Linked DNA regions of Homo sapiens: region 1 is linked to region 2. The links come from fine-mapping of genetic effects on gene expression. A gene starts in region 2. The other region holds a variant in brackets. All regions are shown on one strand. Distances are from middle to middle.

Region 1 (8,490 bases), 130 kb before region 2:
AAGGCCACTCTCTCAGTGCTGCTAAGGTTCCTACCTGTCTGGCAGAAGCCAGAGACCTGACTCCTCTCCCGCAAGATTCCCAGCTGGCCTCGGGGTGATCAATCACCCATCTTACATCGGAGGAAAGGGAGGTTGGGAGAGGGGAGGCGACCGGCCCAAGTCAGGGAGGGAATCCATGGCTGAGCTGAGATGCATGGGAACTCAGCTCCCCTGGCTGATATCTGTTGAAAGTGGCTTTTGTCCCCTTAATGTTCTAATGACAATAGTCATTTGTGATCACTGAGAAACATTAGGAACATGGCGGAAGGCTAAAGAGGAAAATCACGCACAGCGGCCCTTTGCAGCCGGCATCTGCCCCTCTGCTGTTTGTTCTGTTGTCCCGAGACCCTCACGCGTACGGGGCGACTTTGGTGCTGGACGCCCACCTCCAGGCACATACCTGCTCCACTTCCCGACGCCTTCCACCTGAGGCCCTGAGGGGCCAGCAGTTGTCCTTCAGAGGGAGCCTGCAGAGGTGCAGAGTCAGGTGGGACCCGTCGTCCTCCCCTCGTCCTTCAGCGCCCTTTGCAGGAGAAGGAGACTTGGGGTGAGAGTCCTACCTCCGTTTCCCCTTTTGGTTCCCAGACCTGAGCCACCCTCACGTGGGTAGCCCTGTGCCTCAGTTTCCCCATGCTTCGTCTCCATCCCCCTCCTTCTCTAGGCTGCTGGCCCAGCCCCTCCCTCTTGTCCCCGCCCCCTCCCAACAGAGGCAGCGATGGGCGCTGGCGGCCCCCGGCGGGGCGAGGGCCCCCCAGACGGCGGCTGGGGCTGGGTGGTGCTGGGCGCCTGCTTTGTGGTCACCGGCTTCGCCTACGGCTTCCCCAAAGCCGTGAGCGTCTTCTTCCGCGCGCTCATGCGCGACTTCGACGCCGGCTACAGCGACACGGCCTGGGTGTCCTCCATCATGCTAGCCATGCTCTACGGCACGGGTCAGTGTCCCCGCCCGGCCCTCCGCCTCCCCGGGACCCCTGGGATCCGGAACCAGGAGACACCCGAGCCCCTGAGCATCCCCCTGACCCTCGGGGTGGCCCCCGAAGTCCCTTCCTGCCTGTGGGAACCCTGGCACCAGAAAGAGGGGAAGAGAGGGCGGGAGGGAGACAGCGGCCAGAGGCGGGGCCGGCCCAGGGGGCTGCCCTGCGAGCTCAGAGGGCCCCTTCTAAGACCACACCCGCCCATTGTAGAGGCAGGAAAGCTGAGAGCCACAGAAGCACTCCCCCTCCCCGCAGCCCTGACCTGTAGGTGGGGGCTTGCTGGAGTTCCCATCCTGGGAGGCGGGGCTGCGGAGGAATCCCAGTCTGTGCCAGGGCGGGACTTGGAGGCTGTGAAGGTTAAAGGGGTGCGGAAGCCCCCGCTCCGCTTGGGGTTTGGGTTCGCAGGATGGGGTGCTCTGGGCCTTGCCCTCGCAGGATGCTGTCTCTTTGGCCTGTCCCCTCCAAGCTGTGTGACCTTGGCCAGACACTGCCCTCCTCTCTGTGTCCCTGAGCCGGAGGTGACCTTATTCCTTAGAGGACTCAAGCCATCCCGGGACCCGGGTGGTGACCCTGCCCTGCCCACAGGCCCCGTGTCCAGCATCCTCGTGACCCGCTTTGGCTGTCGCCCGGTGATGCTGGCGGGTGGGCTGCTGGCTTCCGCGGGCATGATCCTAGCTTCCTTTGCCACGCGCCTCCTGGAGCTCTACCTGACCGCTGGGGTGCTCACAGGTGAGGGCCCCCTGGTCTCCTCTCCGCTGGGTTGGGGGTCGGGGGTTCTTGCTGCAAGATCTGTCCTCGGTTTCCCTATGAGGGACAGTCTTCGAAGTCCCTCGGCTGGGTTCCCGGATCTGCTGGGTTCCCGGGCCTGGCCCCTCCCTCCTGTGGGGGCCAGGGAGGGGCTCTCCGGGGACCCCGGCACAGCACCGCCTCGCCCGCAGGCCTGGGCCTGGCCCTCAACTTCCAGCCGTCGCTCATCATGCTGGGGCTGTACTTCGAGCGGCGGCGGCCTCTGGCCAACGGGCTGGCGGCGGCGGGCAGCCCCGTGTTCCTGTCCGCGCTGTCGCCGCTCGGCCAGCAGCTGCTGGAGCGCTTCGGCTGGCGCGGCGGCTTCCTGCTGCTCGGCGGGCTCCTGCTGCACTGCTGCGCCTGCGGGGCTGTCATGAGGCCGCCGCCCGGGCCGGGCCCGCGACCGCGCAGGGACAGCGCCGGCGACCGCGCCGGGGACGCTCCGGGCGAGGCGGAGGCTGACGGTGCGGGGCTGCAGCTGCGCGAGGCATCCCCCAGGGTCCGGCCCCGCCGGCGCCTGCTGGACTTGGCAGTGTGCACCGACCGCGCCTTCGCCGTGTACGCCGTCACCAAGTTCCTGATGGCGCTCGGGCTCTTCGTCCCCGCCATCCTGCTGGTGAACTACGCCAAGGACGCGGGCGTGCCCGACACCGACGCCGCCTTCCTGCTGTCCATCGTGGGCTTCGTGGACATCGTGGCGCGCCCGGCGTGCGGCGCCCTGGCGGGCCTGGCGCGTCTGCGGCCGCACGTCCCGTATCTGTTCAGCCTGGCCCTGCTGGCCAATGGGCTCACAGACCTGAGCAGCGCACGCGCGCGCTCCTACGGCGCCCTCGTCGCCTTCTGCGTCGCCTTCGGCCTCTCCTACGGCATGGTGGGCGCGCTGCAGTTCGAGGTGCTCATGGCGGCTGTGGGCGCGCCCCGCTTCCCCAGTGCGCTGGGCCTGGTGTTGCTCGTGGAGGCCGCGGCTGTGCTCATCGGACCGCCCTCTGCCGGTGCGCCCCGAAGGAAGAGGGGGTGGCGAGCCTAGTGCCCCTTAGACCCAGGGAAGCTCCATCCCCCTGTCTCAGATGGAACTTCCAGGGATGAGGGGAAGGGGCAGTCGGGTGGGTGGACTCCCCTTCACGGCCAGTTAGTCCCTCCTCCAAGCCGGACCGCCCGCTCTGGGTGAGGACAGAAAAGCCCAGGAAGGTGCAGGGAAGAAAGCAACACTGGTAGCTGGCCAGATCTGCCATCCCAAGCAGTTGGCACAAGGCCATCTGGAGCGCAGGTGCTTATTCTCATTTTGCAGATGAGGAAACTGAGGCACAAAGCCTTAGCGCAAGTTGCAGCCCCAGAATGAGAGCCTCAGTGTACCTGCTGCTAAATGCCCACGCCTTTAGAATGGTGCATCTAGAATGGTGACTGGAATGGGGACAGTATCTTTGGGAAACTGGTGTTGGGGCCAGAAACAGAGTGGGGGTGCTCAGCGGGCAGATGGGGAGAAGCACTGGTGTCTTTCACTGTGCAGATGGCCTGCTGGCACTTGTCACCGTCACCCTTAGGAAGTCATCGTCATGAGGGTGGTCAGGGAAGGCTTCCTGGAATATCCCCCAGGTGAAGGCACAGCATGGATGGGCAGGGCTTGTTGGGGGGGAACAGCGTCCTTATGCAAGCAAGGCAGGAACCAAAATTGGAAAGGTGGGAGTGGGGGACATGAGGGTTTTCCTGGGTTGTCAAGTTATCTTGAAACAGCAAGGGAGCCTGCCTTTGAGTCCCAGAGGCTAGAGGGCTGTGAGATGGTGCAGTAACCAGGGAGGACACCTTGCGGGGGCCGCAGGCTGCACTGAGATGGGGTGAGCTGCTCGTCCTTCCTTCAGGGCTGGGCTAATCGAGTGCCCTCACTGAGCTCTGTCATCCCACCTGACCCAGTGAGAACGGCAAAGTCCCTGAGCCAGTGTGTGGGCAGGCCACAAAACCAGCCTGCCCAGGCCTCAAGGAACCGTCTTCCATTTCTTGTGTGAATCTGGATGGATCTGATGGGCAGAGGAGGTGCATGGGGTGAGGAGAATGACCTAGAGAGAGGGTGGAGCACACAGACAAACCACACTTTAGGGGGAAATACTTGCAATTAAGAGATTTTCCTGGTCGGGTGTAGTGGCTCATGCATGTAATCCCAGCGCTTTGGGGGGCTGAGGCCAGAAGTCTGAAACCAGCCGGGGCAACATGGCAAAACCCTGTCTCTACCAAAACAAAACAAAACAAAATTAGCTAGGTGTGGTGGCGTGCACCTCTGGTTCCAGCTACTCAGGAGGCTGAAGTGGGAGGATGGCTTGAGCCCAGGAGGTGGAGGTTGCAGTGAGCCAAGATGGCACCACTACATTCCAGCCTGGGCCAATGGAGTGAGACCCTGTCTCAAAAGAATAAGAAAATTCCTGAAGCCAGGTGCAGTGGTTCACACCTGTAATCCCAGCACTTTGAGAGGCCAAGTCGGGAGGATCCCTTGAGCTCAGGAGTTCAGGACCAGCCTGGGCAACACAGCAAGACCCCATCCCTAAAAAAAACATAATAAAAGAGAGACTTTCCTGAGTTTGAAAGTAGTATCTACAAGGGATAGAAGCCTTGAGAAATAGAGAAGGAAATGAGTTACTGGCCCACAAGCCCCACCTGTGCCGATGATGGCTTGGTCTGGGATGCTCATGGGCCTCCTGGGACAGAGGGGTGGGAGGACTAAGCCAAGCCCCTGAGGACCAGGGCATTTACATGGCAACAGCAAGAGGTGGAGGCCCCCAGGAGGGCAGAGCTAAGCCCAGGGCCCCCTCCCCGCTCCCACCCCAGATACCCCACTGCCAAGCAAGTCACAGGACACTTGTGGGGCTTGAATCAGAGGGTGGAGGGGACGCCTCACCA[G/A]AAGCCACATATCACTTAAGCAATTGAGGTCCAGGGACAGCAAGTGACATTTTTAAGGTTTCAAATGGCAGAATCCACATGAGGTTTTACATCTGTAAAACAGGAATAAAGAGTGGGCATGTGTGTGTCACCCAGGAGCCTCACCAAGTCAGTGGCACCACCCTTGACCTGAGAGTGCAGGAGAGTGAGGGGAGGACCCCACAGGACCTTACCTCTCCCTCCTCTTCCTCCTCCTCCCCAGGCCGCCTGGTGGATGTGTTGAAGAACTATGAGATCATCTTCTACCTGGCCGGCTCTGAGGTGGCCCTGGCTGGGGTCTTCATGGCTGTCGCCACCAACTGCTGCCTGCGTTGTGCTAAAGCTGCCCCGTCAGGCCCAGGCACTGAGGGCGGAGCCAGTGACACTGAGGACGCTGAGGCTGAAGGGGACTCTGAGCCCCTGCCTGTTGTTGCAGAGGAACCCGGCAACCTGGAGGCCCTGGAGGTGCTCAGCGCCCGGGGCGAGCCCACAGAACCAGAAATAGAGGCGAGGCCGAGGCTGGCTGCCGAGTCTGTATAACTCAGGGTGCTCTGGGTGGGGTGGCCCAGTGACTTGGGAACACAGCTTCTTGTCTCAGAGAGCCTGGTACGCTGGGAGGCTGGTCTGGGGTGGTCACTCCCGGGGTCCACGTCTGGGCTCCAGTTGATCCCCTGGGTGTCTGGGAACTGCCTCCCTCATCTGTGCCCCAAGTTCCGCCAGGCCCTGCCCCATCGCCAGTGAAGCTGCTATGGAGCAACAGGAAACTGGTGATAAAGCTCAGCTGAACGACAGAAGGTTCTATTCCTCCGCCCAGGCTCCGGCTGCCACCTGAGTTGGGGGTCAGGGTGGTGGGAGGGAGTCTGGGAGGTCTCTCTCCAGGCCCCCTAAGCAGGCTTCTAGGTGGGCAGTGTTGGGAGGAAGCGTCAGAGATGGATGAAGAGACCCATCGTTCCCAGGTGTAGAGACACAAGGGGCTGGGCGGGCACAGGGCTCAGGGGCACAGGGCTGGGTGGGCACAGTGCCTGGCTCCTGCCCAGCCCCACTGCTCAGAGCTGTCTGCTGAAGGCCCCCTCGCTGGCATCTGCCTTTTCCCGTGGAGGGAACGAGGGGTTGGCAGCAACTAGGGTTCAAGGTTGGGGTCTGCCTGCAGGCGGGGGGCCCGAGCGGTCTGAGAAGACTCACAGTTCCCAGGGTCAGGGTCGGTTTGAATCCCAGCCCCGCTGACTTCCTTGCTCACTGGAGGCTGAGCATACGACTCCGTCCCCTGGGGTCCTGGGGAGGGTGGGACCAGGCGCTCAGTAACACCATGGGCCCTGCTGCCTTCCACGAGGTGGCCATGTCCCCTCACCTTCCCAGAGGGCATCTCTCCCACTAGAGGATAAACTTGGGTGTCCAGGGCCAGGGGCTTTTGCTGTGGACACTGTGCTGGCAGCCAGGTCATCTGCTGATCCCAGCACCTGCCTTCTCCCCACGGAGCGTCCCACGATCTCCCTCACACTTTGACATCTGACCTCCTGCACTTGGATCCAGGTGCACGAATCTGGCAAGACGCGATGTATTCCCTCTATGCATTTATCCTCCTCCCATACATCACACCCCTCCTTTCTTTGCCTCCCTCCGAATCATGAGCGTGGTGAACAGGCCCCTGCAGAGGAAGCCGCCTTCCCTCCGCAAACTCCCCTCACCTTCCAGCCCGGCCCATAGTGACCCCTCCCCACTGGTCCCTGCTGGCCCTCATTTTCCATCTAGGCCCCAGGAAGGTCTGGGGAGCCCCACAGATGCCTGGCCGGCTTCTACTTATATGGCCTGTGGCTTCCCCTGCACCACTAGAGCAGTGACTGCGTTTGACTTTATTATTATTATTTTTTATTTATTTTTTTGAAATGGAGTCTCGCTCTGTTGCCCAGGCTGGAGTGCAGTGGCACAATCTCGGCTCACTGCAAGCTCTGCCTCCCAGGTTCACACCATTCTCCTGTCTCAGCCTCCCCAGCAGCTGGGACTACAGGCCCCCGCCACCACGCCTGGCTAATTTTTTGTATTTTTAGTGGAGACGAGGTTTCACCGTGTTAGCCAGGATGGTCTCGATCTCCTGACCTCGTGATCCGCCCGCCTTGGCCTCCCAAAGTGCTGGGATTACAGGCGTGAGCCACCGCTCCCGGCCCGTCTGACTTTATTTAAGATTTAAGAGTGCTTGCTCTGTGCCAAGCCCTGTTCTAAGCCCTCTCCAGATGTTCATTTAATCTCCTAACAAGCCAATAAGGTAGGTGCCACACTTCAGATAGGGAAATTGAGGCCCAGGGAGGTCAGGAACGAACCCAGGCTGTCAGTTCCAGCCTGTGCTCTTGGCCTCCACTCTGGCTGCCCCCTTCAGGGAGGCAGTGTGGTCTGTCTGATGGCTCTGCGGGGACCCAGGTGGGCTCCTGGTGACAGCCAGCCCCTCCTCCATGTCCCACCCCTGCCAAGCCTCCCATTTGGGTTTCTGCCCAGCAATGCATGCTCAAAGCTGATGCAGAAACCCTTTTTCCATCCTGGACTCAGCCCACCTCGCACACCCTGTTGCCCCCTCGCATTCTCAGGATGGCCATATTCATCGTCCAAACAGGAACACGTTAGAGTGACAAGGGCCACTATGACTGATTACACCAGGCCGAGGCTGGCCAGGAGAAGCAGGAGAAGTGGCCACCCTGTTTCTGCCACTCTGCAGACACTCCCCATGGCCTCTCCCCACGCCCCTCTTCCCACAGCCCCCGAGCACCTCTCCCCACACGCCTTTCCCCACCACCCGGGCAGCACAGGCGCGCCTGGAGTCAGCACTTACCCCTCACCACCCTCCCCTACTTGGGGGCTCAGTCGCCCTGGCTCCATGTCTGCCCTTCTCTCCCCCAGAGGTTTATTTCCTGTCGGAAGCACAGAAAGGTCACAGATTGGGGGCGGGGGAAGGGGGCGGGGGGTGAGATACAAAAGGTTCCACAAAGCAGAAAGCTTTGGAGGCAGGTGGCAAAGTCAGGCCTTCAGGACAGATCTGAGTTAAAACCCACTGTGTCCCCACACAGGGCGTGGCCTTGGGCAAGATCTTTCTCTGAGCCTCAAATCACCAGCTGTGAGGGGACCACAGTGCTAGCCCTGCAACACTTCAGTGAGGCATAAATGGTGCATAGCAAGGGCGCTGTCAATAGACGGTGGAGGGGAGGGGCAGACAAGGAGGGTCTGAAGCCACTGCGACCACTGCGCCATCCAGGTTTGTGTTTATTCGATACAGGCCCAGAACCCAGCCCTCCTTCAGAGAAGTGGCCGAGCTGGGGGAACAGAATAAATAAAGGCCGCCGAGGTGTGATGGGGACTGGACGGGCCGGTCTGGGGCGAGGCAAGGGTGCCCAGGAGGCATTGACCCCAACCTCAGCTGTCCACGGCTGGCCCCACTCCCAGCAGGCTCCGGGGGCAGTGTGAGCGCCCACAAGGAGCAGGGCTCGGACTCCTGCCACCTCCAAGTCCTTTCTTTTCCTTCCTGCCCTCCCTCTCCTTCCTAAGGCAGGTCCAGAGACCAAGCTCTCCCTCTGGCCGGGGAGCCGGGAGGGGAGGGAGGGTGGAGGGGCCAGTGTCCAGGTCCCAGGCCATGACCCTGGTGCCTGTCCTGGGCAGGAGCCCAGGTTCGCTGTGCGAGGACAGAGGAGCAGGGAGGCAGGCGCCCCAAGCCAGCAGGCCTTTATGCGTCGCCCCCTTGCGCGGCGGCCCCGCCCCGCTCCCAGGCTCCGTCCTCCCACGCACCCTGCCCCCGGCACCACAGCCGCGG
Region 2 (8,490 bases):
GAGAAGAGCACACAGAGCAGAGTCTGGAGTGAGACTGAAGCAGGAAAACCAGCCACACAATTCCTGCAGGAATGTGGCTGAAAAGCAATAAGATCTAAGCCAGGTTAAGGCACCAGGAGTAGAAAAATGCAGACAGGGCTGAAGTACATCTAGGAGGCACAATCTACATGACAGGGATGGGAAGGGGACCAGAAGGATGGAGAAGGACGCATCTGACTCAAGTGAAAAGGTATCTGAAAGTGCCATGCAGAGAGAGAGAAGGCTCCATGTCTCTCCAGAACATAACTGCATTTTTTCCCTCATCAGTCACACAAGACAGAAAGCCCTACTTTCCTCTTGAGGCTGGCAACCTATCCACCTAGTTGCTCAAGCCAGAAACCTGAGAGTCGTCCTCGTCACCACTCACTTTCTCAGCCCCATAACCAACCCACCGAAATAACTCTTTTATCTGCCTTCTCATCACCTGCACTACCAGCACCTATGTCCAAGCCACAGGCCTCTCACCTTTCACTCTTGCCCTTCCCCAGTTCACTCCTTACTCGAGGCAGGAATGTACTTTCTAAAATGTAACCTGGACTGTGCCCTGGCTCAAAGTTTGTCAGTAGCTTCCCATTGCCTTTAGGCTACAAAATACTGCCTCATCTGAGCCCTGCTTACCTCTTCCCTTTGCTCCTTAAGCAGTCCCACCCAGCAGAAAGCACCTGGCATATAATAAACATTCAACACATGTTTGCCAAATGAAGGAAGGCACCGTTTAACTTGTCAGTGAACTAACTGCCCCAGAAGCCACAGGCTGTGGACCACATGGACAAAAGCTTTCAGGCCCACCCTGCAGGGCTGTTCTGCTATGCAAGACTGGAACACAGCTCACTCTAACTGGGAATGCTTATGGCAGGGGCCTTGACCACAAATAGAAGGCAGACACATTCAGCTAATCATCACCTGTCAGACGATTTGGCAGCTTGGGCTGCAGAGGTGGGAGCCTGAGGCTGAATACTGACCTCTTCGGCATTCTCCAAGTCATCTAGCCCTTCATCCTCCTCCACATCATCAAAGTCGTCGCCATCAAAACTGTACAGGAAGAAGAGATCAGTTACTTAGAGCATCACTTAAAAGAATCAAAGAGGGGCCAGGCACGGTGGATCACACTTGTAATCCTGGTACTTTCGGAGATTGAAGTGGGCGGATCACTTGAGGCCAGGAATTCAAGACCAGCCTGGCCAACAAGGCAAAACCCCATCTCTACTAAAAATACAAAAATTAGCCGGGCATGGTGGCACATGTCTGTAATACCAGCTACTTGGGGGGCTGAGTCACAAGAATTGCTTGAACCCAGGAGGTGGAGGTTGCAGTGAGCCAAGATTGCACCACTGTACTCCAGCATGGGTGACAGAACAAGAACCTGTCTCAAAATAAATAAGAAAAATTAAAAAAAAAAAAAATTCAGAGGCCGGGCATGGTGGCTTTGTATTGTGGCTCTGGGATTAAGCCTGTAATCCCAGCACTTTGGGAGGCCAAGGCGGGTGGAGTTCAAGGCCAGCCTGACCAACATGATGAAACCCCGTCTCTACTAAAAATACAAAATTAGCCGGGAGTGGTGGTGGCACATGCCTGTAATCCCAACTACTTGGGAGGCTGAGGCAGGAGAATCACTTGAACCCAGGAGGCGGAGGTTGTGGTGAGCTGAGATCACGCCATTGCACTCCAGCCTGGGCAACAAGAGTGAAACTCCGTCTCAAAACCCCCCCCCGCCACCGCAAAACAAAAAACAAACAAAAAAAAAATCAAAGAGGGCAGAGATCTGTGTCTCGCCCAGTATGTAGGAAGCACTCAATAAATATTTACTTAATAAGTAAATCAGCTGAGTGCAGTGGCTCACGTCTGTAATCCCAGCACTTTGAGAGGCCGAGGTGGGTGCATCACTTGAGGTCAGGAGTCCAAGACCAGCCTGGCCAACATGGAGAAATCTCGTCTCTGCTAAAAATACAAAAAAATTAGCCGGGTGTGGTGGTGGGCGCCTGTAATCCCAGCTACTCAGGAGGCTGAGGCACAAGAATTGCTTGAACCCGAGAGGCGGAGGGTGCACTGAGCCACGGTCACCCCACTGCACTCCAGCCTGGGTGACACAGCGAGACTCCTTCTCAAAAAATAAAAAATAATAATAAGAAGAAGAAGTAAATCCGACTTTTGTTCCATTTTACCCCTTCAATTTTTCCCCATCTGCCCCCAAATATTGCTAGTACTCATTCATCATCACTGTTTCCCTCTCTACTGGATCATTCCCATCAGCATTTTTTTTTTTTTTGAGACAAAGTCTCGCTCTGTTGTCCAGGATGGAGTGCAATGGCGTGATCTTGGCTCACTGCAACCTCTGCCTCCTGGGTTCAAGCAATTCTCCTGTCTCAGCCTCCCGAGTAGCTGGGATTATAGGCACACGCCACCATGCCCAGCTAATTTTTGTATTTTTAGTAAAGATGGGGTTTCACCATGTTGACCAGGCTGGTCTCGAACTCCTGGCCTCAGGTGATCCACCCTCCTCGGCCTCCCAAAGTGCTGGGATTAGAGGTGTAAGCCACAGCACCCGGCCCCATCAGCATTTCAACATGTGCTTTTCCTCATCTAAAAAAAAAAAAAAAAAAACCCTTATTTCTCTTCTCTCTCCCCCTATAGCCCTAATTCCATGGTGTCCTTTGAAGCAAAAATGTGTGAAAGAGCTGTCCACCCTCACTATCTTCCTCTCTTCCCATTTTGTCATAATCTCACTCCAAAAAGCCTTTCACCCCAACAGCTCCATCAAAACCACTTTCCAAGCTCATTAATGATCTCCACGTTGCTAAATCCAATGGCCAACTCTCCTTCTCATTTAGCCTGATCTATCAGCTGGCACATTAGGCCACTTGCTCTCCTCACTTGACTCCAAGGACACCTCACCCTCTTGGTGTTCCCCCACCTCCCCGGCTTCTCTTTTCCCCCAAGCACTCAATGTCCAAATGCCCTAATGCTCAGCCACGGGTCATCTCCTCTTCTCTACTGACACTCACTGGGAATGGGGTAGCAATCCCACACGTTTCTTATTTTTATCTTCAGACTAGCTCTCTTTGCACCCACATATCCCACAGGTAATTTTTGGGCTCTATCTTTAAAATAGTAATATATCCAGAATTCAAAACCAGTTCTCACCACCTCTACTCCTACCACCCTACTATAAGCTACTGACTTCTCTCATCTAGATTACTACAAGCAGGCCGGGCACGGTGGCTCACGCCTGTGATCCCAGCACTTTGGGAGGCCGAGGCGGGTGGATCACAAGCTCAGGAGTTCGAGGCCAGTCTGGCCAACATGGTGAAACCCGTCTCTACTAAAACTACAAGCAATTAGCAAGGCGTGGTGGTGCACGCCCATAATCCCAGCTAGTCGGGAGGCTGAGGCAGGAGAATCCCTTGAACCCCGGAGGTGGAGGCTGCAGTGAGCCGAGATCGCGCCACTGCACTCCAGCCTGGGCGACAGAGCAAGACTCTGTTTCAAAAAAAAAAAAAAATTACTGCAAAGGACCGTCCCAGACTTTTATTTAATGCCACCCGGTGGAGCTGCCCCAGACCCTCCTCTGGAGTACTCCTATACTACATACGTCTAGAACTGGGGAAGCTCACGCGACCACCGTTACCTGCTTGCTTGCTTACTTATGGGCCTGTGACCCCTTTTCTAGAAAGTGAGCACGTGGAGAGGCAGGGACGATTGTTCATTCACCTCAATATTCCCACTGCATGATACAGAGCCCGGCTCGCTGGAACATTTGCTGAAGGACACCTTTTCTACGGATCCCCTCTGGACCCTCGAGCCTGGGCCCTCCTGTGCCTCCAGCCGGGGCTGTGCTCCTGGGTCGCCCGCCCTTCCCTTCCTCGGCTCCGCCGGCCCCCTCAGGACCCCAGTCCCCTCAGACATTGCCCCTAGACGCCAGGCTCCTCAGCCGACCCAAGCCTTGCCTCATCCGCCCCTTCCAAGGTTGCCGCAAAGGCCACTCCGCTCCCGCACTCACTTGTCCTCGTTGTCTGACATGACACCCTCGCCTCAGCGACCCCGCTGCGCCCCGGTCCCGCGCGGAGACCCGCAAACAGCGACACTACGACTCGCGCGGCTCCTAGCTTATCTTGCGCCTGCGCCGTAACCCAGAGGAAATCACTTCCGGGAGGCAGGACAGAGCGGGGAAAGTGCGCATGCGCTGACTGGTGTGTGCGCGTTTCTATAGTAGCGAGAGGCGCTAGCTGCCAGCTCCAGCAGCCCAGATCGCGCAGTATTTCTGCGTGGCACCGGTGCGGATGCGGCTGTAAAGCAGTGGTCACCGCCTCCGGGAGCCCACTTCTATGTGGAGAGGGGAGCACCCAGAGAGGGTCTTAGGGTGAAATTTCAATTTTGGCATATCACTCAGTGGGTACTGTTGTGACCATGGCTGTGTTAACACTCCCTCCCGAGGAGACTTCCCTGCCACAGGCGCTGGGTCAGAATGAGGACTGTGTGTGTGTATCTGTGTGTCTGGATGGGAGGTTTGGGCACTGTCGCAATATTAACTGGCGGCATCATTCTCTGGCTCGATCCCCGCTTCCAGACTTCTGGGGGTGTTGGGCGTCGGGGAACAGAGATTAGGGACAGGAGACAGGGGGTGTGTCATTGCGTCTTTCCCTCCTCAGAGTCCTCCCATGGCTTCACAGAAGCAGATGGAGGTAGTGACCAAAGGAACTGGGTTCCGGCGCCGCCCCAAGACCATCACTTACACCCCGGGGACCTGCGAGCTGCTCAGAGGTCAGTCCGTTAAAGCAGCGATCCCAGCCTTTTTGGCACCAGGGACCGGTTTCGTGGAAGACAATTTTTCCACTGACGGAGGTGTGGGGAATGGTTTCGGGATGAAACTGTTCCACCTCAGATCATCAGGTATTAGTTAGATTCTCATAAGGAGCGTGCAACCTAGATCCCTCGCGTGCGCAGTTCACAATAGGGTTCGCGCTCCTATGAGAATCTAAGGCCGTCACTGACCTGAAAGGAGGCGGTGAGGCTCGCTAGCCTGCCGCTCACCTCCTGCTGTGCGGCCCGGTTCCTAACAGGCCAGGGACTGGTACCAGTCCACGGACGGAGGGTTGGGGACCCCTGAGTTAAAGGATGAGAGAAGAATGGTGGTAGTTACCCTCTGTAACTCAGTTCCCCCGTACCTGACCTGTGGCTTAGCACTATTTTCCTTTACAGATAAGGAGCCTGGGGTTCAGAAAGCTTCAAAATTCTACTGCATATGCCTTATTCGGGGGCGGGGCGGGGCGGGGGGGAGGGGAAGGTTCAAGGTGCTACACCTTGCCAAAAGTCAAAGAACTAAAATTTTTAGAGTAGTTAACTCCTATGCATCCTTTAGATCACACTTTCAACTTTCCCGAGGAAGACTTCTGCTCCTCACCACCACAGTAGGATCAACTGTTATGTGCCCTCACACATTTTCCTTCACTGGGCTTAGCACAAGCTGTAGTCAGTTATTTGGTGTCCCATCTATCCCTCCAGATCATGAATTTCATCAGGCAGGAACCGTGCCTGTTTCGGCCCACAATTGTAGCTCCAGCCCCTGAAACATGATGAACAAGTATTCATGTGTTCTTTTACTCAACAACTTTTTTGTTTTTTTCCAACAACAACATTTTTAAGTCTACCATGTGCCTTAGACTCTGTTTTAGGTGCTGGGGATACAGCAGTGAAAGAAAATGAGGTGGCTCAAACCGGTAATCCCAGCACTTTGGGAGGCCAAGGTGGGCAGATCACCTGAGGTTAGGAGTTCACGACCAGCCTGACCAACATGGAGAAACCCAGTCTCTACTAAAAGTACAAAATTAGCCGGGCGTGGTGGCGCATGTCTGTAATCCCAGCTACTTGGGAGGCTGAGGCAGGAGAATTCCTTGAACCCAGGAGGTGGAGATTGCAGTGAGCTGAGGTCGCGCCACTGCACTCCAGCCTGGGCAACAAGATGGAAGCTCCATCTCAAAAAAAAAAAAAAAAAAAAAAAAAAAAAAAAAAAGAGAAAGAGGAAAAAATATTTAACAGAGGGCAGAAATTTTATTAAACCAGCAAAAATTCTTATCATACAGCTAATATAGAAGGATAACAATAAAATAAAATATATAGAATTTTAGGTGGTCGTAAGTGCTATAGAAAAAACGAAGCAGGAAAGATAGAGAAGGCATGCTCAGTGCAGAATGGGGCTAGGATGTAGGGTTTTAAATTTCAGTAGGGTGTCAGGTGAAGGCATCCGCCTGCAGCCCAAGAGGCCTCATAGAATGCTTTGTCGTGCAGTGATGATGAAGGAATCCAAACTGACGAACATCCAGCAGCGCCACATCATGGACATCATGAAAAGTAAGGGGCAGTCCACAGAGGCTTCCTGGACAGAGGGATCTGGGGCCACACTTTTAATGCTTCTCCATGTTAAGGGAGAGAGGACCTCATATAAAAAAAACAAAGACAGCCGGGCACGTGGCTCATGCCTGTAATTCCAACACTGGGAGGCTGAGGTGGGAGGATGGCTTAAGCCCAGGAGTTCAAGACCAGCCCGGGCAACGCCACAAGCCACAAGACCTCATCTCCACAAAACCTTTTTTTTTTTTGAGACAGAGTCTCACTCTGTCGCCCAGGCTGGAGTGCAGTGGCGCAATCTCGGCTCACTGCAACTTCTGCCTCCCGGGTTCATGCCATTCTCCTGCCTCAGCCTCCCAAGTAGCTGAGACTATAGGTGCCCACCACCACGCCTGGCTAATTTTTTGTATTTTTAGTAGAGACGGCGTTTCATCGTGTTAGCCAGGATGGTCTCGATCTCCTGACCTCATGATCCGCCCACCTCGGCCTCCCAAAGTGCTGGGACTACAGGAGTGAGCCACCACGCCTGGCCAACTTTTTTGTTTTGTTTTGTTTTGAGATGAGTCTCTCTCTCTGTCGCCCAGGCTGGAGTGCAGTGGCATGATCTCGGCTCACTACAACCTCCGCCTCCTGGGTTCAGGCAATTCTCCTGCCTCAGCATCCTGACTAGCTAGGATTACAGGCGTGCGCCACCATGCCCGGCTTAATTTTTGTATTTTTAGTAGAGACTGGGTTTCACCATGTTGGCCAGGCTGGTCTCGAACTCCTGACCTCGTGATCTGCCCGCCTCGGCCTCCCAAAGTGCTGGGATTCCAGGCATGAGCCACTGCACCCAGCCCCCAAAATTTTTTAAAATTAGCCAGGTGTGGTGGTGCCAACCTGTAGTCCCAGCTACTCAGGAGGTTGAGGTGGGAGGATCACTTGACCCTGGGAGGTCAAGGCTGCAATGAGCTGTGATTGCACCACTGCACTCCAGCCTGGGCGACCGAGTGGAGCCTAATCTCAAAATAATTAAAATAAAATAAAATTAAATTAAAATAAAAACAGGTCAGGCCGGGTGTGGGAGCTCACACCTGTAATCCCAGCACTTTGGGAGGCTGAGGCGGGCAGATCACCTGAGGTCAAGAGTTCAAGACCAGCCTGGCCAACATGGTAAAACCCTGTCTCTATGCCAATACAAAAATTAGCTGGGCATGATGGCGGATGCCTGTAATACCAGCTACTCAGGAGGCTGAGGCAGGAAAATCACTTGAACCCAGCAGGCAGAGGGTGCAGCGAGCCGAGACCATACCACTGCACTCCAGTGTGGGTGACAGAGCAAGACATCGTCTCAAAAACAAAAAATAAAAAATAAAAAAAAACAGGTCAGCTGTGGTGGCTTATACCTATAATCCTATCACTTTGGGAGGCTAAGGCAGGAGGATTGCTTGAGCCCAAGAGTTCAAGACCAGCCTGGCAAAACACATACATACTGGGGTGTACCTGTAGTCCCAGCTACTCAGGAAGCTGAGGCAGGAGAATCACATGAGCCCAGGAGTTCAAGGCCAGCCTGGGCAACACAGTGAAACCTCTCTCTACAGCAAAATTTTTGGGTGTGTGACCAAAAAAATTAATACTTCTGACCGCTCGCTCCTGGGGAATTGACCTTGTAGAGGCTGGATGGGCAGAAAAGGTAGACAGGCACCCAGATCAAAACAGTGGATGAGCCAGGTGCGGTGGCTCACGCCTGTAATCCCAGCACATTCAGAGGCCGAGACAGGCAGATCACCCAAAGTCAGGAGTTCAAGACCACCCTGGCCAACATGGTGAAACTCCACCCCTACTAAAAATACAAAAATTAGCCAGGTGTGGTGACCCGGGCCTGTAGTCCCAGCTACTTGGGAAGCTGAAGCGGGAGAATAGCTTGAACCCAGGAGGCGGAGGTTGCAGTGAGCTGAGATCACACCATTGCACTCTAGCCTGGGTGACAAGAACAAAACTCTGTCTCAAAAAAAAAAAAAAAAAAAAAAAAAATTAGCCAGGCGTGGTGGCACACACCATAATCCCAGCTACTCAGGAGACTGAGGCACAAGAATCGCTTGTACCCAGGAGGTGTAGGTTGCAGAGAGC

Alleles and levels. Alleles are on the strand shown, and positions count from the first base shown. SD is a standard deviation of normalised expression in the study named.
For the expression in esophagus muscle of the gene that starts at base 4,243 in region 2, allele G in region 1 goes with a lower level than allele A (small effect, 0.11 SD a copy in GTEx).

Evidence for each region.
Region 1: its variant is fine-mapped to the expression of C22orf23 in esophagus muscle (GTEx, PIP 0.95).

What each region holds. Positions count from the first base shown.
Region 1 is chr22:38,075,138-38,083,627 of GRCh38, reverse strand. PICK1 (protein interacting with PRKCA 1) reads right to left here. Exons shown (of 13, transcript NM_012407.4): 13 at 7,927-8,490. It overlaps SLC16A8 (solute carrier family 16 member 8), which reads left to right. Exons shown (of 6, transcript NM_013356.3): 2 at 267-586; 3 at 747-968; 4 at 1,596-1,739; 5 at 1,949-2,788; 6 at 4,924-5,491. The coding sequence starts at 755. The coding sequence ends at 5,240. LOC105373027 (a long non-coding RNA gene) reads right to left here and starts at 4,987. Exons shown (of 3, transcript XR_938249.3): 1 at 4,895-4,987; 2 at 4,681-4,774; 3 at 3,261-4,015. RefSeq lists a silencer at 936-985 and enhancers at 2,301-3,082, 8,167-8,490. The variant G/A (reference allele first, on the strand shown) is at 4,683.
Region 2 is chr22:37,949,354-37,957,843 of GRCh38, reverse strand. It overlaps C22orf23 (chromosome 22 open reading frame 23), which reads left to right and starts at 4,243. Exons shown (of 7, transcript NM_032561.5): 1 at 4,243-4,396; 2 at 4,686-4,797; 3 at 6,322-6,384. The coding sequence starts at 4,695. It overlaps POLR2F (RNA polymerase II, I and III subunit F), which reads right to left and starts at 4,145. Exons shown (of 5, transcript NM_021974.5): 1 at 4,037-4,145; 2 at 1,002-1,071. The coding sequence starts at 4,056. RefSeq lists a silencer at 3,910-3,979.